Linked DNA regions of Homo sapiens: region 2 is linked to region 1. A link means that fine-mapping ties the variant in region 1 to the expression of a gene that starts in the linked region. Tissue or cell type: cerebellum. Region 1 holds a variant in brackets; the other region holds the start of a gene. All regions are shown on one strand. Distances are between the middles of the regions.

What was found. PIP is the estimated chance that this variant, and not a neighbour inherited with it, causes the effect.
Region 2: CLEC2L starts here. The variant in region 1 is fine-mapped to the expression of CLEC2L in cerebellum (GTEx, PIP above 0.99).

What each region holds. Positions count from the first base shown.
Region 1 is chr7:139,540,972-139,551,599 of GRCh38, reverse strand. CLEC2L (C-type lectin domain family 2 member L) reads right to left here. Exons shown (of 5, transcript NM_001080511.4): 4 at 9,479-9,579; 5 at 6,615-7,369. The coding sequence ends at 7,258. Among named protein-coding and RNA genes, the nearest start is that of CLEC2L, 23 kb to the right of the region's middle. RefSeq lists enhancers at 6,673-7,274, 9,192-9,965. The variant G/A (reference allele first, on the strand shown) is at 5,882.
Region 2 is chr7:139,518,483-139,529,110 of GRCh38, reverse strand. CLEC2L (C-type lectin domain family 2 member L) reads right to left here and starts at 5,426. Exons shown (of 5, transcript NM_001080511.4): 1 at 4,994-5,426. The coding sequence starts at 5,183.

The DNA.
Region 1 (10,628 bases):
GAGGCCAAGAGTTCAAGACCAGCCTGACCAACATGGTGACACCCCATCTCTACTAAAAATACAAAAATTAGCCGGGCGTGGTGGCAGCTGCCAGTAATCCCACCTACTCAGGAAGAAGCTGAGGCAAGAGAATCACTTGAACCGGGAGGCAGAGGTTGCAGTGAGCTGAGCTCGCGCAACTGCACTCCAGCCTGGGCGACAAAGCGAGATTCCACCTCAAAACAAACAAAAAACCAGTCCAAGCAACTCTCCAGGAAACCTGTCCCCTACATATTGGCTTAGCATCCCAGGATGCTTCAGTCTTATGGAACCTCCAAATCAATCACTACAATGGGGAGGGAAAATATGAAGCAGACATTGGTTCTTAAATGCTTCCACCTAAAAATGACAATGTGTCACTTTTCCTTGGTAAAAGCAAGTCACATGGACACCTAACTTCAAGAGGTCAGGAAATACAGTCCTTCCATCTGCTTGGAGACAAAGAAAAGTGACAAATATTAGTGCAGGGCAGTCATACCTATCACATCCCTCAGTGCACATGCTGTGTGAATGGCTCCTGATTGGAGCCAAATGGTTTCTATCACTGACCCACAGTAGTCTGTGGTGTGAGCAAGAAATACAGTTATCCCTCTGCATCCATGAGGGATTGGCTCCAGGACCCCCCATAGATACCAAAATTTGCAGATCCTCAATTCTCTTATATAAAATGACATATGACCTACGCATATCCTCTCGTACACTTTAAATAATCTCTGGATTACTTATAATACCTAATACAATGTAAATACTATGCAAATAATTGTGGGTTTTTTTGTTTTTTTTTTTTTTGAGACAGAGTCTCACTCTGTGGCGTGCAGTGGCGCGATCTTGGCTCACTGCAGCCTCCACCTCCCGGGTTCAAGCAACTCTCCTGCCTCAGCCTCCCAAGGAGCTGGGGTTACAGGCGTGTGCTACCATGCCCAGGTAATTTTCATATTTTTAGTAGAGACAGGGTCTCACCATGTTGCCCAGGCTCGTCTCGAACTCCTGACCTCAGGTGATCCACCTGTCTTGGCCTCCCAAAGTGCTAGGATTACAGGCATGAGCCACTGCAAATAATTGCTATATTATGTTCTTTTATTGTTTGTTTTTCAAATAGTTTCAATCCATGGTTGGTTGAACCCGCGGATGCAGAACCCACAGATGTGAAGGGCCAGCCTCTGAAATTTGGGTATTGTTACAGAAGCTAGCACAATGCTTTGCACAATACCTAGTCCATAAGAAGCTCTTAATTAATGTTGTTATTGTTATTCCAATTTATTATTACTCTTATTCCAGGTATTGTTGTTCCAATTTTGTCTTCGTTGTATATTTATCTGCTGAAAAGGAGTCTGTCCTCTAAACCACAGAACCCTAATAGATATCCTAAGTGGCTGGTCATCTCATTTATCTTTTTCTCAAAACCATCTGCAAGTTTCCTACTTTGTGGGCAGCTGAATTGGAAATGTGGGTTTCTAGGATCACAGACAGCATGGTGTAAAGAAAAGAGGATTTGAACCCGGAGGCAAGATCAGTTTAATTCAACACACATTTATGGAGCACCTTCTGTATGTACCAGGTGCTAGGGCTACAAAGGAGTGTGAGACTGGGTCCCTGCTCTCTAGGAGCTCACACCTCTGCATGAATGATGGACTAGTAAACAATTGAACAAAGCATGACACGTGCAATAATGAATATAAAGCAGAACAGGAGAGCCACACGGCCTGAGTGACATGACCTAGGATGTGTTACTTAACTGCTCTGGGCCTCATGGATAGTGAGATGGGGTAGATCATTTCTAGCCCCTGAAATATTAACATTTACAATTCTCAAAGCCCTGTGAAGTCAGCAGGGCAATTATTATTCCAGCCTTATAGACAGATGTAAAGCTTGAGGTCAGAGAGGTTTCATGTGGCGGCCTGAGCTACACAACTGCTTGTTGGTAGAACCAGACCCAGATTCAGGCAGGCCTTGGGAGCTGTATATAGTGCGTCCACTCCAGGCTGCCGTGGCAGACAGCGGGGAATCTCTGATGGGTGTGGCAAGGGGCTTTCTTGTTGCTCCCAATTTGAATCCCATACTTACAGTTTGGAGCTGGCCACAGACCAAGAGGAAACAGGCAGATACCCCTCCACCTGCTTCTGGTGCAAGCACTCAGCAGAGAGTGGGCATTTCTGAAAACCAGGTCACCTCTCACAGAACAATACAGTGATATCATATGGACAGGATTTTCCCAGTGATCGCAGGACCCTTCAAAACCAACCCCGGTCACTGATGACAACATTCCCGGGCCTGGCTTCCTCTTCCAGCTGTCTCCTCATCACTGGGCTTAGTGTGTGATGTGAAGGACACTCGGGAGATAGAGGCAGCTTTCCCTCAGCACCCCTGGACTTTTGGGCCACCCCACCCTCAACCCATCCAGCATGTGCACACTTAGGGAATGTGAATGAGCTCATTTAACATAAGCAAGGAGCTCACATTGGCTGTGCCTCTGAAATCATGCCACCAAAACCAAAAAGACAAGGCTCTGGACAATAGCCAGCCATCACTACCTCCCACCATAGCAAATAGTTCACAGATGACACTACAGGCAATCTTATTATCATATACAGCAATTTCTGAGCATCTGCTATGTGTACTAAAAAGAGACCAAAAACACACAGTCCCTGCCATCTAGGGGCCACTATGGAGAGGCTTATAATCAGATGACAGGAATGGTCAGATGACAGGAATGGTCAGATGACACAAAGAGAAGAGTCACAAGATGACAAGGCCACACAGACACAGGGCCATGTAAGAGGCTCAGTCTTAAGAGGCAGAGACTTTGGGCAAAGGGAGTGGTCACGAGTGCTGTTGCTGCCAGGGAGGCATCCCAGGGAGGCTGGAGCTGGGCCTTAAAGGAAGAGAAGGACAGAAGTCATTCTTCACATCACCCACTCTTCCATGGGTAATTCACTGAATATCGTGTGATGAAGATAAAGTCATCCAGAAAAAGAATTGCCCGTGGGCATGCAGATGTCCTTTCCCAGGGTGGCCCCTTCTCAGCCACTGGCACACCCACCAGTGCCGCTCCATCCTCAGGGCTGGCCAGCACAGCAGGCAGCTCACCTGCCACACATGCAGCTCACCTGACACATGCAGCTCACCTGCCATACATGCAGCTTTCCGAGGTCCCTGTGGGGATGGGTCTGGGTTCAAATCCTGGCTTTGCCACCACCCAACAAATCCTGGCTTTGCCACCTCCCAACTGTATACTATGGGGCAAGTCCCATAGCTGCTGAGCTGGGCTGATCATGCTGACCTGGCAGGGCTATGAGGAAGATGCATACAATACTAGTTAATCCTCTAGGACAGCACCAAATGCTACCACCCAGTAAAGCTTCTTAAAAAGTCTTTCCTAGGGCCGGGAGCAGTGGCTTATGCCTGTAATCCTAGCACTTTGGGAGGCCAAGGCAGGCAGATCACCTGAAGTCAGGAGTTTGAGACCAGCCTGGCCAACATGGCAAAACCCCATCTCTACTAAAAACACAAAAATTACCCAGGCATGGTGGCACGTGCCTGTAATCCCAGCTACTCAGGAGGCTGAGGAAGGAGAATCACTTGAACTCGAGAGGCAGAGGTTGCAGTGAGCTGAGATCGCACCACTGCACTCCAGCCTGGGCAACAAAGCAAGACTCCCTTTCAAAAAAAATAAATAATAGGCCAGGCGCGGTGGCTCATGCCTGTTATCCCAGCACTTTGGGAGGACAAGGCGGGCAGATTAAGAGGTCAAGAGTTCGAGACTAGCCTAACCAACATGGTGAAACCCTGTCTCTACTAAAAATACAAAAAATTAGCTGGGCGTGGTGGTGTACGCCTGTAATCTCAGTTACTTGGGAGGCTGAGGCAGGAGAATTGCTGGAACCTGGGAGGCGGAGGTTGCAGTGAGCCGAGATCACGCCACTGCACTCCAGCCTGGGTGACAGCGAGACTCCGTCTCAGATAATAATAATAATAATAAATAATAAATAAAATTAAATAAAAAAAAAAGTCTCTCCTGGGTATCCTCCATCACAAAGTACCTCTGTGCGTGGCTGTGTGTGTGCTCCGGCTTCTACTAGCCCCCTGCCTACTGGGATTAGGGCTCAAATTTGCCTAGGGAGCACCTTCCCCAGCTCTGAGCTCCAAGGCCAGTCACCCCAAAAAGGAAAAATCTGCCCCAGGGGATAAGGAGCGAGACTTGGGGAGATGCGGTCCTACAGACCCTCCTTGCTGAAGGAGACATGAGCTCTGGGGATCAGAAACAAGTAGCATGTCTGCCCTCAGTGCTGCTGCCTCTAGCTGCTGAGAACACAGCACGGGGTGCCAAGGCCACGCAAACTGAGCCTGTTGTTCAGCCCACAAAGGGGACAGGGGTGGCCTGGCTGGTCTGTAACCCTTGGAAGGATTTCTGACATTTCTGAAGTTAGGTGTACAGGGTTTTGTTTTTATCTTGTACTTCCTTCATTGGTAGAAAAGAGTTTGAAAAAATCTTTCTTTTTTTTTTTTAAGACAGAGTCTCCCTCTGTCGCCCAGGCTGGAGTGCAGTGGTGCGATCTCGGCTCACTGCAACCTCCGTGTCCCAGGTTCAAGCAATTCTCTGCCTCAGCCTCTTGAGTAGCTGGGATTACAGGCGCCCGCCACCATGCCCAGCTAATTTTTGTATTTTTAGTAGAGACGGGGTTTCACCATGTTGGTCAGGCTGGTCTCAAACTCCTGACCTCATGATCCACCTGCCTTGGCCTCCCAAAGTGCTGGGATTACAGGCATGAGCCACTGCACCCGGCCTGAACATGGATGACCCTGGATCAGGGCACATGCTCTGCCAAACTGATTTAGAATTGTTGCATGGTCCCAGGACAAACCTAAAGTTAAAAGAGCTTATTTGCCACTAGGCTTTAAAAGCTTCAGGCAGGAGGCTTTGGATCATTTAATAAAAAATAAAACCCAGGTCAGACGCAGTGGCTCACATCTGTAATCCCAGCACCTTGGGAGGCCGAGGCAGGCAGATCACCTGAGGTCAGGAGTTCAAGACCAGCCTGGCCAACATGGTGAAACCCTGTCTCTACTAAAAATACAAAAATTAGCCAGGCATGGTGGCACTCACCTGTAGTCCCAGCTACTCGGGAGGCTGAGGCAGGAGAATCACTTGAACCCAGGAGGCAGAGGTTGCAGTGAGCCAAGATTGCGCCACTGCACTCCAGCCTGGGCGACAGAGTGAGAGTCTTTCTCAGAAAAATAAATAAATAAATAATAAATAAAATAAAACCCGAACGGCACAGGTTACCCATTCTGTGTCCTCTCACATTGCTTCCCTGAACTCCCAGGGCAGGAGGAAAGCAGGGCTCTGAAGCCCTCGGCCACGTGGTTCTCAGGACTCTGGCAAGGTAGTTTACTCACCTTTGGAAGTGTGCCCTGCCTCGGGCATCTCTGCAAGAATTAAGGGAGCTGCCATATGTAAAGCAAAAAGTACTGAGGCTTTTGAACCTCACTGTCTTTGAGGGGTGGATACTGGTGAGAAACACGGGCTTATATGTAACTGAGAACAGGTGGGAGTGTGGGACTCCCACCGGAGAAGTGGCAGCAGCTGACCACTTCCTCGCCCCTCAGCCCCTCACAGCCACCCCTACAGGCCCACCATCACCAGCTGAATTCCCTTAACTACTTTATTGTATACTCAGGTGCCCCACTGGCTTCCCAGTGACAGCAAAATATAAAACCATAAACCACCTGTATTTTATGAAATATCTGGAAAGCACGCGGAAAATGTAACAAACCCAAGTTGGTGGTTTTGTCTGAAGACTGTAAAACCAGTACTAGGACTGTGCAGAGCACAGCAGGACCC[G/A]GTTTCTCTGAGCTATTTTCTGAAAATGGGCCAGGACCCAAATGCACACACTGGGCTCCCAGGCAGGCCACCCACATCTCATCTGCCCGGGGTTATCAGGAGGCTGGAGAGGCCTGGGCTCCACAGCTGGAGCCTCAAGTGTGTGTGGAGGAGAGCATGGAGCCCCCACAGACCCGAGGGCATTGCCTGCCAACCCCATGCCCCGACTGCTTCCTCCCCAGGCAGCTCAAGGGGGATAGGAAGAGGCCATAAGACTTTCACAAACTCTTTTCCAGCCCAATGTGAACACCACCTAATTTTCATGTTCACTTCATTCCATCCTGCCCCGATGCAGAATAAACCATCCCTTGACTATGTTCCAGAATGTTCTAGCACTTTCTGAACTGTTTCCTCTGCTCCTTGCGTGCTTCTTGGGGGATTAAGGCCAGAGATCCCCCATGCCTGGTGTGGTGTCTGGCTTGCGGTAGGTGTGAATAAACGTTTGTCATCTTGAGGTGACTAGCAATGAAGGAGCTGGAACAGCCACGTAAGAATACCTTAAAGGCTTAGCAACATGAAACGATGTCCTGAGGCCAGAAGGTGCTTTTTTTTCATCCTCACACACCGCTATCTGCTGCACTAGAGCAGGTGCATTTTGTGGTAGCCCCCACAGACTGGCACCCAGAGATGTGCCCCTCTCTGCCCCTCCCCGAGCTCTGACTCTGGAACAAATGGCGGCAGACTTCTCTGGACATGAGATATTAACTCTTTATTCCGTTAGTGACCAATACAACAGCACCACGGACACAGCAGGGGCCCTGCCTGAGAACCCAGGCAAGGCAAAGAAGGGGGATGCAGGGGACCTCTGGGGCCCGGGGCGGGGCTGGCCCGGCCTAGGTGAGGGGGAAGCTTTCCCAGCCTACCTCCGCCGGCAGCCAGGAGAGAAACCAGTGGGGAAGCGGGGCTGCTGGGTGAACAGTCAAACCACCTGTCAATGCCCCTCCTTCCCCAGAGCACCAGGGCTGCAGTGAGGAGAGGGCTTCTAGGGGGCCGGAGAGAGATCTGTGGGGTGGCTCAGGATGGACACTGAGCTTCAGAAGGGACAGCGTCTGTGCGTGCGTGTACCTATGCATGTGTGTGTGTGTAGGTGGGCAGATGCCTACACTACCTAGCATATGGGATTTAACTGCTGAGCCACACGACCTGCCTGCAGACAAAGGAGGCCAGGAACCAGGGACTCAGAGCGCCAGGGCCTGGGAGAGGGGCCTGGGGCGGAGGCCACGCACCCACCGCTTCGCCTTGCAGAGGGCAGGCGGCTCCGCTGGAAGCAGGTCTTGAGCAGACACCAGACACCTCCCACAGGCCTAGGGGCGGGGCCACCTCTGGCCCCACCCACCTCAAGTATAGGCCATCTTGCTGCACACCCAGGGCCGGGTCATCAGACACTCCGTCGACACCAGCCTGGTGGGCTCCACGAAGACACACTCCCCTGGACCTGCGATGGTGAACCTGTGGCCAGGAGAGAAGACCAGGCGTTTATGATCTGGAACATTCAGCCCAAAACCCAGTGGCAGGGGAGGCCATGGAGGCCCTGTGACCTATCCCTCCCTCACTTCATCACTGGAGCTGCCTTCTAGGACATTTGGGCCAACAGACTGTTCTAGCTTGGCATCCCATTGTCTCCCTACTCTGTGCACCGTAGCTCCAGCCACCCTGGCACGCTGCTGAGACATTTCCTGGACACACATGCACTTCCCCATTCTCAATGTCCTTGCAGGGTCGGCTCACATGTCCCAGGCTCCATGGCACCCAGTTCAGGGCCACTCTCTGCCCACTCTACTTCCCCACAGTCCCCTGCCTGCTCTGTGGGGCACTCCCATAGCCCCCTGGGGCCTCTACCTGTCTGTCCACACAGGTCCCCAAAGCAGCCATCTCCTGAGCAGTGAGCTCTGTGCGCTCTCATCTTGGCTCCCTGCAGTGCGCAGAGTTGAGCACACAGGAGGAGCTCTGCAGAGCTGGCTGAAGTCAGCTACCCCTCACAGGTTAGGGGTAGGCTGCAATGACCCCAATATGGGCTAACTGAGGCTGGGTTGCACAGGAACTCATTGACATCACACACAGATGGGTGTGGTGGGAGGATTCCCCCCTACCTCAAATCACCCCTTTCCAGCCTCAGAGGTTTCTTCTTAGCCTTAGTTGTTCACCCGGACCTCCGATCCCTGCCAAGGCTGGAGGTAGACCCTCACAACAGAGGGCATTGGAAGGACCCCAAGAAGGAGTGCAAGGGAAAGGACCTCTGCAGTGTCTGAGAAATGTGGCCAACGGCCCCTTGGTTGTCAGGTGGTCAGCACGCCACGGACCCCAGCCTGCAGGGCTCTGAGAGCAAGAAGCTTCCAGAAAAGCAGGGAGAGGGGTGCAAAGCGCAAGACCTCCTCAGCCACTCTGAGAGAGCAGACCTGAGAGGGGGACAGGAAAGGGGGTGAGATAAGGAAGGGGCACTGAGGCCAGAGTAAGGGCAAAAATGAAGAGTGCTTGAGATAAGGAAAAGGAGGAGGAGGGGAAGCATCATGAATGCCCCTGCCTCCAGGGCTGCCATGGGCGTGACTGCCTAAGCCATCCTCAGGTGGGAGGGCAGCTGATGGCCACCTCTGGCAACCAGGAGGATCCCAGGGTCTCAGATGCCCTTCTGCTTTAGCCCCTGCCTTGGGGACGTTCACGCATCATCATCATCATCGGGTTAGGAGCTGTGTTCCCCACCCCACCCCATGCCCTCCGGCTGGCACCTCAGAGCCTATTCCTCCAGCCACAGGGTCTGTTCTGCGGGTCCCACTTCCCTCTGCACACTTCCCTGCATTTCTCTCGGCCTAGACCACTCCTTTCCCCACGCCCCACACAGTCACCACTGTACTGCCACAGCCACACATCTGCCACCCACTCCGCCCATGACCATCACCCCCACACCACACACCAGACCTGGCATCACACACTCACATCCACTCCACTTGAGTCTTACAAAACCGCCACGGCACACGCCACCACCTCAGCAGCGCTCCGTCCATCAAGAGATGCGTTCGCCAGTAAAATGTGACCTAGAACACTCCCAGGTGCCTGCCTTCAGATCCCCTTTCTTCCACAGCTACAGTGCTTAGGTGGCACGAGGCTGCCCGGGACAGAGGCGCATCTCCCATCCTCCCTTGCGGCCAGGTGCGGCCATGTGACTAAGTTCTGGCCAATGGGGTGAGGCCATCCAGGGCCCTCCCTCCCATTCTCTGTCCCGTTCTGGCTGAATGGGATGTGGTTGCGCCACACTGAGTGGAGCCGACAAGCGCCAGGCTGCACAGATCAGGGACTCAAGGGTGGAGAGACCCTGGGCCGGACACCGCGAAGCTCTGATGGCTTTGCAGGGCAGAGCCACCAAGCCAGGCTGGACTTTTATGAGAGAGGGAGAAGTACAGACATTTTCATGGCTGGGTCTCTGGCGCACACTGCTGGACCCCGAGACTAGTATCTCTAGCTAGCACAAAACAAGGGCTTCTCTCTTCGGGAGTTGTGTCCAGGGGGTGAGTCAGGCCTTTCTCAGTCTAAGCTCGGTAGCCAGAAGATGAAGCCTCAGCTCACGTGTCCGGATCAAACGGGTCCCCGTTGACCCAGTGGAATTCGTCCCCAACTCTGCGTAGTCCAATCCAGGGCTCCCTCCGCGTGAACTTGAACATAAATTCCTGCACCGAGGAAAAAGGGACACCTCAGGGTCAGATGCGGTCTCCTGACTGCTGTCACATCCCAAGACAAACCTCAGCTTGGAAGATACTGGCTCTCGGGATGTACAGACGCCAGGAGAGTGACTGTTGTCTCGCTGAATCCCGCAAGTAAGGAGCTAGGTTACAGGATCCTCTGCAGTCACGCTGCCAGAATTCGGCTCCAAGCTGCTGGCTGACCTCACAGCAGTTGCCTCCGACAGCTTGAAAGGGACCCTGGCTGTGTGTGCATGCCACTGGCCAGGAAGGCTGTACAGGGCTTGTCCTCCTGGCTCAGCAGGACAGCATTCCTGATTTGCAGGAAGCTTGGGGATTGCCCACTGGTTGGATGATCTGGGACAAATCTCAATGCTCAGGTTGGTTGTCCTACCTGCAAATTTCTGGGACTTTCCCTGCAGACTGGGGATATCATACTGTGTATCAAAGGCAAACAGAAGTGATTTTTAGATTATCTTCTATTTTGGTTAATACCACTGTTAACCTCAAAATCCAAAATGGCCAATAGACTCCATTAATTGTGTTTCTTTCACGTTTCTGTTGCTAAGACTGTTTTGGATGTTAAATGAGAGACCGTGTCCTGATTTGGATCTTTAGAAAATGACAATGTGTTTTCACATTTCACAATGCATTTATAATTTGTAATTCTTTTTTTTTTTCCTTAAGAGACAAGTCTTGTGGCTGGGCACGGTAGCTCACACCTGTAATACCAGCACTTTGGGAGGCCTAGGCGGGTGGATCACTTGAAGCCAGGAGTTCGAGACCAGCCTGGCCAACATGGTGAAACCCTGTCTCTACTAAAAATACAAAAAGTAGCCAGGCATGGTGGTGCACAGCTGCAGTCCCAGCGACTCAGGAGGATGAGGTACGAGAATCATTTGAACCCAGGAGGCAGAGGCTGCAGTGAGCCGAGATTGCACCATTGTACTCCAGCCAGGGCGACAGAGTGAGACTGTCTCAAAAAAAAAGAGAGACAAAGTCTTGCTATGTTACCCAGGCTGGCCTCGAACTCCTGT
Region 2 (10,628 bases), 22 kb after region 1:
GTGCTTTACTCACCTTCAGATTGCCTGAAAGAGGGCTGGGTCATTGCCCTGCATGTTACAGAGCACCCACTGGAACTCAAAAACTATGGGAGAAATTTAGTTACACCAAATGACAACATCCTTGGTCAACTTTAAATTCAACTGAGTTTGTAGGAAAGACCACACAGGGAAGAGGGATCGGTACATGTATCTGCAGCACTGCCAGACCCAAGGTGCCTCTTCATTATGTCTCAGGGATAATTTCTCTAGGTGCTGCACTGGACCATGCTTCCTCTGACCTCTGCAGGGGCTCCTTCCTTGCCTCTTCCTAGTGTCCAGTGGTTGCTGACGGACTTTGGCACTCCTTGGCTTGCAACCACATCAGTCCAATCTCTGCCTTTATCATCACATGGTATTCTCTTTGTGTGTCTTATGTCGTTCAACTATGTCCCCACCCAGATCTCATCTTGAATTATAGTTCCCATAATTCCCATGTGTCATGGGAGGGACTGGGTGGGAGGTAATTGAATCATGGGGGCAGGTTTTTCCCAAATCATGCTGTTCTTGTGATAGTGAGTAAGTCTCACAAGATCTGATGGTTTTATAAAGGGCAGTTCCTCTGCACACACTCTCTTGCCTGCCACCATGTAAGACGTGTCTTTGCTCCTCCTTCACCTTCCTTCATGATTGTGAAGCCTCCCCAGCCATGTGGAACTGTAAGTCCATTAAACCTCTTTCCTTTATAAATTACCCAGTCTTGGGTATGTCTTTATTAGCAGTGTGAGAACGGACTAATACAGTGCCTTTGTCTTCATGTGACCATCTTCTTATAAGGATGCCAGTTCATATGGGATTAGGGCCCACTCTACTCCAGTCTGACCTCATCTTAACTACAAATAATCTGCCAGACTGTATTTCCATATGCAGTCACATTCAGAGGTACCAGAGGTTAAGACTCCAATATCTCTTTTTTGGTAGGGACACAATTCAACTTCTAACAAATGTCTAACTCATTACTTGTTCCCTACTATGCCATGGCCCATATTAGATGGCGTATAAGGGTGTAGTTTATTTAGGTTTCTAAATGTGTGTGATTTCACCTAATTTTAGAAGGAACAACTGAAAAAACCTGACTCCCAGGCCCAGACAAAGCTCCCATCATCCTCACACTCATATCCCAAAAAAGGCCCATGCTGCTGTCTCTAAGTCATCGGGGACACAGCCTGGCAAGCATAATCTTGACTGTTAAAAACTACCAAATGTGAAGTTTGGTAATTTTTAAATTTTTAAGAGGCTAAAAGCATGTGTGTGGTTTTGATCAGGAAGTTGTGGGTTTATGCCTAATCAAGAAACTTTCAACATTAAAAATTCAGAATCGGTGAGCACTAAAAAATCTATAGGCTGAGGCACGCAGGCTCACTCTGTCCCCTCTCCCATACCCCCAGGCCACTCTGCCCCACTGCCACTCTCAATGCCAGAAATATGCCCATCTCGAATCACTTCTCTTGTTCCCAGAACCCAGGCGGGCTCTCCGGGTCACCTTTTCTAGCCTTATACCCCAGGCTGGAAGGAAAGGTTCATATCTACAGCGAGAGAAAAGACTTGATTAAGGCAACTTCTGTTTGGCTTCCTGTTTATAAAGCTAGTTATTCATCTCAGAAAAGTCTTAAAGACCTGGGCTCTAATCCCAGCTTTCTGCTTTAAGAAGCTCTCTGACTCATTTAACCCATAAGGAGGGAAACGTCAGTGCTGGAGGTGGCAGGGTTGTCTGGGGAGCAGGGGGAGGAGAGCGTGTGTGTGGGAATTTGATGATCCCCAGCTAGCTTCACCAAGGCTGACGTCCTTGGCCATGCAGGAAGGGGTCAGAGCCTTCACAACAGGGCTTTCATGTGATAGCAACCAAGGATGTCCTTGGGCAAGACACTCAGGCTCTCAGTCTCGGCTCCCTCATCTATGAAACAGAACACTCACCAGCCCCCCTGCAAGGGGAGAGGTGAGGACTGAGATGATGACTATGAAAGCCCCAGCAAGGCTCCAGCACGTAGCAGGTGCTTGATGTGCATTGGGCACATGGTGATAAAGGAGCAGAGACTTCTTGGAGGGTTCAGCTCAGTCAAGTCAGAAAATGTCCCATTTCTCTCAAGACAAGTGCTTGGCTAAGCAGGGGCAGCATAACCCTGGGTCCCCAAAGGACAGATCCCTCCTCCCATTGACAGTGTTTCATTACGTGAACTCTGGACTCAGGTTTGGGGTGGGAAGCAGAATCAAGGGAGGCTGACCAGAAGTCCAAGTGTTGCAGTTAGGCCTGGGCTCCCCCAGCAGGGGCTGCAGGAGGCCAAGTCCAGGCAGCTGGGAAGAGGAGTCACCATACACACAGCCCACACTCCAGGGCCTCTGTCTACCTGAGAGGTAGAAATCATGACCTGACTTGGCAGATAAGGAAGCAAATGGTCCAGGAAGTTGGAAAGCCCGCCAGCCTGTGGCAATGGAAGGCTCTGCCCCAGCTTTACCAGATGCTCTGCTTCCTGCACCTCCCCACACTGCCTCAGTCCCTGTCCTGGAACCTCTGAGAGAACATAAATGTGCCCAGGGCCCAGAATGGTACCCGGATGTTGCAGAAAGAATGAATGCATGATGGAGACAAATACAAAAGCCAGCACTGGGCCAATGCAGCAGCACCCTGGAGAGGAGCAGCCCTGCTCCATGAGCTCCTTTCTTCTGGGTCCTCCAGAAGAGGACCTCTCCTTCCGTCTGGGTCCGCCAGACCCGTCTCTCTCTACCCTGCCCCACCCCAGTACTCCAGGGCTCAGTTCCTACATGGGACAAACTAGCTCTGGCCACCTGGCCCAGAACACATCGTGCTCTGGGTCTGGGACACCTTTCCCTCTGTCTCCTCTCAGGCTCCTTTCCCAGGCTCCTCTCAGAAGAGAGGAGCTTGGGGGCACCCAAGAAGACCTTCAGAGAACTGGCAGAAGGGAGGCCCCTGGCCAGACTCAGACTCCAGATTCTAAAACTCCTGTGGGAAAAGTCAGTAGGCCCAAGATGCTGAGTACCCAAGGACCACAGGCCATCAGGAGTGGGACTGCTCCTGGGGAGACCAGGGGAAGGAAGGGGAGGGGACTGCAGGTGGCATGAGTCAGAGAGCAAGGCAAGGCAGGGGGCCATGGTGAGGCAAGGCTGGACCACAGGAAGATGCTAAGCATGGGAGTGGGCTTGACTCAGGGCCCCAGGCAGCCTCTGGGTGACCTTCCAGCTTGGTGTGTGGTCTGTTCTGCAGCCTGACTGGCAGGTGGGCAGCCCAGCCACAGTGGGGAGGAGGAAGCACAAGGGGGTGGAAGTCAGGGCAGGAGGTGGACAGGAACAGCAAGCAGGAGGCATTAAAGGGCCACAGCAGCCCAGAAGCAGCCCTACCATGGGGGCTGGGGTTAAGGTTAGGGCAGACCCTTCAGAAATGCTGACGAATAAATGAATGAAGAAATACAGGCAAGAGGAGGGAACAACTTCAAGAAATAGCTTTGGCAGGAGTGAAGCGTGGGAACACAGGGCCACTCCAACAGTAAAGCCGGAGACAGCGTCACGGGGGGGTGTCTGACCACCTCCATCCATTCCACACAACTCTTCACAACCCACAGCTCTGCTACAGCTCTTCTCCTTGGTGACGCAACATCTTCGCCTCCTCTGTCCCTGCCACTGTCTGGTGGTCCAGCTTCAGAGTCTGCACAGCCCTTCCTCGGACAGTGCACGTCCCCTGGCCCATAGCCTTTGTGCAGAAGGCTGGCATTACCATCCCCACCTCGCCATCCTCAGCAGCCCCATGACCTGCCTTGGCCCAGCTGCTGGTTATGTCCCTCCTGGTCCACTGCCCCACCCCCTCCCTGACCTCGAGCCTGGGTCCCACCCCTCTGGGCCACCACCAGTCTTCCAAGGGCAAGCCCACCATCTCCACCCCTCAGTAGCCCCTTCAGAACAAAGTCCAAGCTCCTGGGCAAGGCCTGGCTGGCCCTTCACCGTCTGGGTCCTTCAGGCCCGTCTCTCTCCACCCTGCCCCATCTCAGTACTCCAGGGCTCAGTTCCCACGTGGCACAGAGTAGCTCTGACCACCTGGCCTGGGATACGTCATGCTCTGGGTCTGGAACACCTTCCCCTCTGTCTCCACGCCTGCTAAGAGGTCACCTACTCCTGGGAAGCCCTCCTTTTCTGACACTGCCTCCCTAAGGATGGGTGATCCAGGCTCCAGGCTTCCCTAGTTAATGCTGCCCAGGTCCTCCTTGTCCTTGGATTCAGGGTGCCAGGAGCACCCTGAGAAGCACCCAAAGGGCCAGCCACCCTCTCACCAACTCCTGCATCTCCCACACCACACGCCGCCGGCGGTAGCTAATACAAGTTTCCTTAAAGAGCTCATGAACTTGAAATCAATTCTCTACTTGGGTTACTGCCCCGGAGGCAGGCCAGGGGTCCCTCCCTGAGGCAGTCTGATGGAGGAGTAGGTGTGACCCCTGACCTTGCAAGGAAGAGCCTCTCCTGGATTCTCCACCCCTGCCCTGCCCTGCCCTCCCCACATGCCCCACCACCACGGGGTCCCCGCGGCTCTCACAGGGGCGGGCACCACCTCTGGGGTCTCCAGCTTTCTTACTTTACTCGAAGCGTGTTCACGACCACAGATTCCGCCACCCTCTCAACACGCCTGTCTGGTGGGTGTCAGGCAGTGTTTGTCCCCTTCATGCGTGAGGAGACGAAGGCTCAGAGCGTGAAGCCCGCTCCAAGGTCAGAGAGGGAGTCGCAGCAGAGGCGGGGTCGAGGCTGTGACTCGCGGTGGCCCCCGGTTCCCTCCCACCCCACCCCACGAACCGGCGTCTGGCCGCCCTGAAATGAATGACTCCGCCGCGTCCCGGCGCCGCGCTCCCAGCGCTCCCCTCCGGGACAGCGGCCAAGGTGACTCTGACCGCCTCCGGGTCGCGGGTCGGGCCTGGGCAGGGGTCCCTGGGCCAGGAGAGGGAGGCCGCTCCGCGCTTACCCTCCAAGGCCGCCTTCCAGCTGGTGCTGCCCTCGTAGCCCGACCCGGATCGCCGCAGCAGCCCCTCGGGGCCGCGGGCCTCAGCCTCTGCGGGCGAACGCGGCCTGGGGGCGGCGGGGGCGGGCGCGGGGCGCGCGGCGAGGGGCGGCGGCGGCCGGGCCCGCGAGGGGGGCTCCCGGGCCGGCTCCATGCGGGGCGCTCCGCCGCGCCGCGCCCGCGCTCCTGCACCGGGGTGCGGGGCCCAGCCCGACGCGCACTCGGCGCTCCGCGCGCCCTGCGGGCCCCCCAGGCCGGCCTCGGGTGGGCTAGGACCGCGGCGCTGGCAGGCCGGGGCTGAGCCCGGCTCCCCGCGCTGGAGCCTCTGCGCCGGGTGCCGCCGCGGTGCGCTCAGCGCCTGCCCCGCCGAGCCGCAGCCTCCACGCACAGCCGGGCTGGGGAGGAGCGCGAGGCGGCGCGCGGGAGCCGGGAGCCGTGGACCCGGGCGGGGCGGGGCAGGGGCGGAGAGGGAGGAGGCGCGGAGGAGCGGGGACAGCCGGCTCCCCGACCCCGCCACCTGGGCTGGAGGCTGGATGCTGTCGAGCTGGGAGCGCAGTCTTGGAGCCGGGAGACCTGGTTCTAACTCAGCTCCATCTCCCCAGCCGCCTGCTCACCATCTGTGAAAATGGGAATAAAGTTCGCGGGGACAGTGCAGGGAGGCTCAGGGAAGATGAGCGCCTTTCTTCCCGGCTGCCCTGGAGCCACAGCAGAGGGTGGTAGGGGCTGTGACTTGACCCCCAAACTCTTGATAAAGGAGAGAAACGTCCGAACGATGAGCACAGAGACAGTAGAGTCTAAAGGAGCAAGCGAAGTGACGTTGCAGATTCAATTAACATTTATTGAGCACCTACTAAGCGCCAGGGACTTTCACATATTATTAGCTGACAATGCCCCCAGGTGAGGCTGAGAAGTGGAATTTTGAGGTCAAGGACATTTCCGAAGGCGGCGCCAGGCAGGTGCGTGCTTGGCGGGTGTCTGACTCCCAGGCCAGGGCTCCCTCCGGAGCCTTCACTGGCCCCTTGCCTCAGCTGACCTCGCGTCGCCTGAAGCCCCACGCCTCCAGCCCTGATCCTCTTCCCCCTCCACCATTCTCAGCCCCAACCTCTGGTTCCTGTCTCCATCTTCAGTTCCTCATCCCCAGCTCCTCCTGCTCCCTCCCCCAAATCCAATAGGCCACTGACTCTTGTGAATTCTCCCTTTTAAAATATTTTTATTTTTATTTTTTGAGACAGGGTCTCGTTCTGTAGCCCAGGCTGGAGTGCAGTGTCACTACAGCCTCGGCCTCCCAGGCTCAAGCGATCCTCCCACCTGGGTCTCCCAAAGTTCTAGGATTGCAGGCGTGAGCTGCCGTGCCCGGCCCCTTTTTTTTTTTTTTTTTTTTTTTGAGACGGAGTCTCGCTCTGTCGCCCAGGCTGGAGTGCAGTGGCGGGATCTCGGCTCACTGCAAGCTCCGCCTCCCGGGTTCACGCCATTCTCCTGCCTCAGCCTCCCAAGTAGCTGGGACTACAGGCGCCCGCCACTACGCCCGGCTAATTTTTTTGTATTTTTAGTAGAGACGGGGTTTCACCGTTTTAGCCGGGATGGTCTCGATCTCCTGACCTCGTGATCCGCCCGCCTCGGCCTCCCAAAGTGCTGGGATTACAGGCGTGAGCCACCGCGCCCGGCCGCCCGGCCCCTTTTAAACTCTTAGTCTGCGCATTGCACTCCATCCCTCTAGCCACTGGCCAAGTACAAGCCAATGCCTTCTCTTGCCCGACCACAGCAGCAGCCTTCTAAGGGGTCTCCCATCCTCCACTCTTGCTCCCTCCTATCCAGCCCCTCCCCCTCCACACCCGCAGCATCTACCTAAAGTGCAAACTCACCACTCCTTCAGGGGTCCCTTTACCTGTGGATTAAGGCCATCTTTTTACAAGGCCTCAAGGTCCCTCATGGTCAAAGTCCTGCTCCTACCTAAGGCATCCTCTCCTCCCACCCCTTCTCTGCCAGCCCTAGACACACCTAACTATTCTGACTCTTTCCTCTGGGCCTTTGAACACTGTCTTCCTTCTGCCTGGAACACATCTCCTCCTTGGTCCTTCTAACCCCTCCTTGTAGCCCCCATGCACCCTAGTTTGCCTACCAAATTTCTGCTAATGCTTCTGATTGCACAGTCTCTAGGATACTGCATTCATTCAGAGTAGGTTCAACAAGACTACAACAGAAAACCCCAGTAAGAGTTTAACTAGAAAGAAGGTTTTTGTTTTTTGTTTTTTGGTTTTTTGTGTTTTTTTTACCTGAAAGAAGTCTAGAGGTGATCAGCCCAGGGCTGGATTGAGAGCTCCAAGATCATCAGGGACCCTAGCTCTTCCTCTCATTCTGCTCCCATCATCCTTAGTATATAGCCTACATCTTCAGGATTCCCTCATGGTCACACTATAGCCACTGTGGTTCCAGCCATCACACCTGCACACCAGATTACAGAAAGAGGAAGAACCAAGGGGAAAAGGGCATGCCTCTTGTTGAATCAGACTCCTTTAAAGAGTTTTTCTGGAACCCCCAGTGATTTCCACTTACCTTCCACTGGACACTTCTTTCTCAAGTAAGTTTGTGGAGTATAGTGGCAATTAGCTAAAGCCATTGCCACGCTCAATAATGCAGAGATTCTGTTAGGAAGAAGGGGGGAATGGAATATGTGCATGACCAGCAATCCCTGCCTCCTAAGCCTCCTGTGATCCCAGACTGTGGCACCTGTCCTTTGGGCCTTTGGAACACTCTCCACCTCTCTTCCCATAGCACTTGCCACATCCTACTGTCATTGTTTGATCCCCAACCAGATGGCCAGCTGTGGGGTGAGGGCAGAGGCACTGCTCTATCCCCCATTCCTAGGGCAGTGCCCCATTGGAACACCAGGCCCAAAGCTTCAGACTTCATGTAGGCACAAGGAAGCATCAAAGGTGTTTGAGCAGAGAAAGGTCATGATCACACCATGCTTTAGGAAAATTAACTTTGGGCTCTCCCTCTCCCTCCCCCTCCCCCTCCCCCTCCCTCTCCCTCTCCCCTCTTTCCACGGTCTCCCTCTGATGCCGAGCCGAAGCTGGACTGTGCTGCTGCCATCTCGGCTCACTGCAACCTCCCTGCCTGATTCTCCTGCCTCAGCCTGCCGAGTGCCTGCGATTGCAGGGGCGCGCCGCCACGCCTGACTGGTTTTCGTATTTTTTGGGTGGAGACAGGGTTTCGCTGTGTTGGCCGGGCTGGTCTCCAGCTCCTAACCGCGAGTGATCCGCCAGCCTCGGCCTCCCGAGGTGCCGGGATTGCAGACGGAGTCTCCTTCACTCAGTGCTCAATGGTGCCCAGGCTGGAGTGCAGTGGCGTGATCTCGGCTCGCTACAACATCCACCTCCCAGCCGCCTGCCTTGGCCTCCCAAAGTGCCGAGATTGCAGCCTCTGCCCGGCTGCCACCCCGTCTGGGAAGTGAGGAGCGTCTCTGACTGGCCGCCCATCATCTGGGATGTGAGGAGCCTCTCTGCCTGGCTGCCCAGTCTGGGAAGTGAGGAGCGTCTCTGCCTGGCCGCCCATCGTCTGGGATGTGAGGAGCCTCTCTGCCTGGCTGCCCAGTCTGGAAAGTGAGGAGTGCCTCTTCCCGGCCGCCATCCCATCTAGGAAGTGAGGAGCGTCTCTGCCCCGCCGCCCCGTCTGGGATGTGAGGAGCGCCTCTGCCCGGCCGCCCATCGTCTGAGATGTGGGGAGCGCCTCTGCCCTGTCGCCCCGTCCGGGATGTGAGGAGCGTCTCTCCCCGGCCGCCCCGTCTGAGAAGTGAGGAGACCCTCTGCCTGGCAACCGCCCTGTCTGAGAAGTGAGGAGCGTCTCCGCCCGGCAGCCACCCCGTCCGGGAGGGAGATGGGGGGGTCAGCCCCCCGCCCGGCCAGCCGCCCCGTCCCGGAGGGAGGTGGGGGGATCAGCCCCCCGCCCGGCCGCCGCCCCGTCCGGGAGGTGAGGGGCGCCTCTACCCGGCCGCCCCTACTGGGAAGTGAGGAGCCCCTCTGCCCGGCCACCACCCCGTCTGGGAGGTGTACCCAACAGCTCATTGAGAACGGGCCATGATGACAATGGCAGTTTTGTGGAATAGAAAGGTGGGAAAGGTGGGGAAAAGATTGAGAAATCGTGGTTGCCGGGCATGGTGGTGGGTGCCTGTAGTCCCAGCTACTCGGGAGGCTGAGGCAGGAGAATGGCATGAACCCGGGAGGCAGAGTTTGCAGTGAGCGGAGATCATGTCACTGCACTCCAGCCTGGGAGATAGAGCCAGATGGTTGCCGTGTCTGTGTAGAAAGAGGTAGACATGGGAGACTTTTCATTTTGTTCTGTACTAAGAAAAATTCTTCTGCCTTGGGATCCTGTTGATCTATGACCTTACCCCCAACCCTGTGCTCTCTGAAACATGTGCTGTGTCCACTCAGGGTTAAATGGATTAAGGGCGGTGCAAGATGTGCTTTGTTAAACAGATGCTTGAAGGCAGCATGCTCGTTAAGAGTCATCACCACTCCCTAATCTCAAGTACCCAGGGACACAAACACTGCGGAAGGCCGCAGGGTCCTCTGCCTAGGAAAACCAGAGAACTTTATTCACTTGTTTATCTGCTGACCTTCCCTCCACTATTGTCCTGTGACCCTGCCAAATCCCCCTCTGCGAGAAACACCCAAGAATGATCAATAAAAAAAAAAATAATAAAATAAAAAATAAAAAATAAAAAAAAGAAAATTAACTTTGGTACCAGGTACAAACCAGTCTGGGAGCAGATCAGCAAAGAAACTCTTGAAATAAACGGTTAAGATAAAAGGAGTAACAAAGGTGTAATACCAACGCATCGGCAGTGGCGCTGACCTTAGAAGGCTTCCGACAGTCAATCACAATACTTCAGGACCTATCAGAGGTAGGATCTAAGCCTCCCAGAGTCCCCGCACGCCCTTGTCAGCTTCCCTGCTCCTCTCCTGATGCTTCCTGGGATCACTTCCGAAATAAATTACTTGCACTTAAATCCTTGTGTCAGGGTATGTTTTGGGGGGAACCCAAAAGACAATGACCCTTACGGCTGTGAAAGGGTCCACTTCCTCAAGAAGGAGGTGCTCATGAAAATGGATAAAACCCATCAAGACCCCCCGCCCTAGGCCGGGCGCGGTGGCTCACGCCTGTAATCCCAACACTTTGGGAGGTTGAGGCAGGTGGATCACTTGGGATCAGGCGTTCAAGACCAGCCTGCCCAACGTTGCGAAACCCCGTCTCTACTAAAAATACAAAAAATTAGCCGGGCATGGTGGTGGGTGCCTGTAGTCCCAGCTACTCGGGAGGCTGAGGCAGGAGAATGGCATGAACCCGGGAGGCAGAGTTTGCAGTGAGCGGAGATCATGTCACTGCACTCCAGCCTGGGAGATAGAGCCAGATTCCATCAAAACAAAACAAAACAAAACAAAAACAAAAACAAACAAACAAAAAAACCTGCCCTCTATCCCTGAGCGACTGTAGAGTTTCTAAGACGGCCCTTCCTTGAGCTCAGGCGACGAAGGCTGCACCAGCTGTACTCCCAGGAGCAAGCAGGGGACATACTGCTTACCTTTCAGAACCCAGT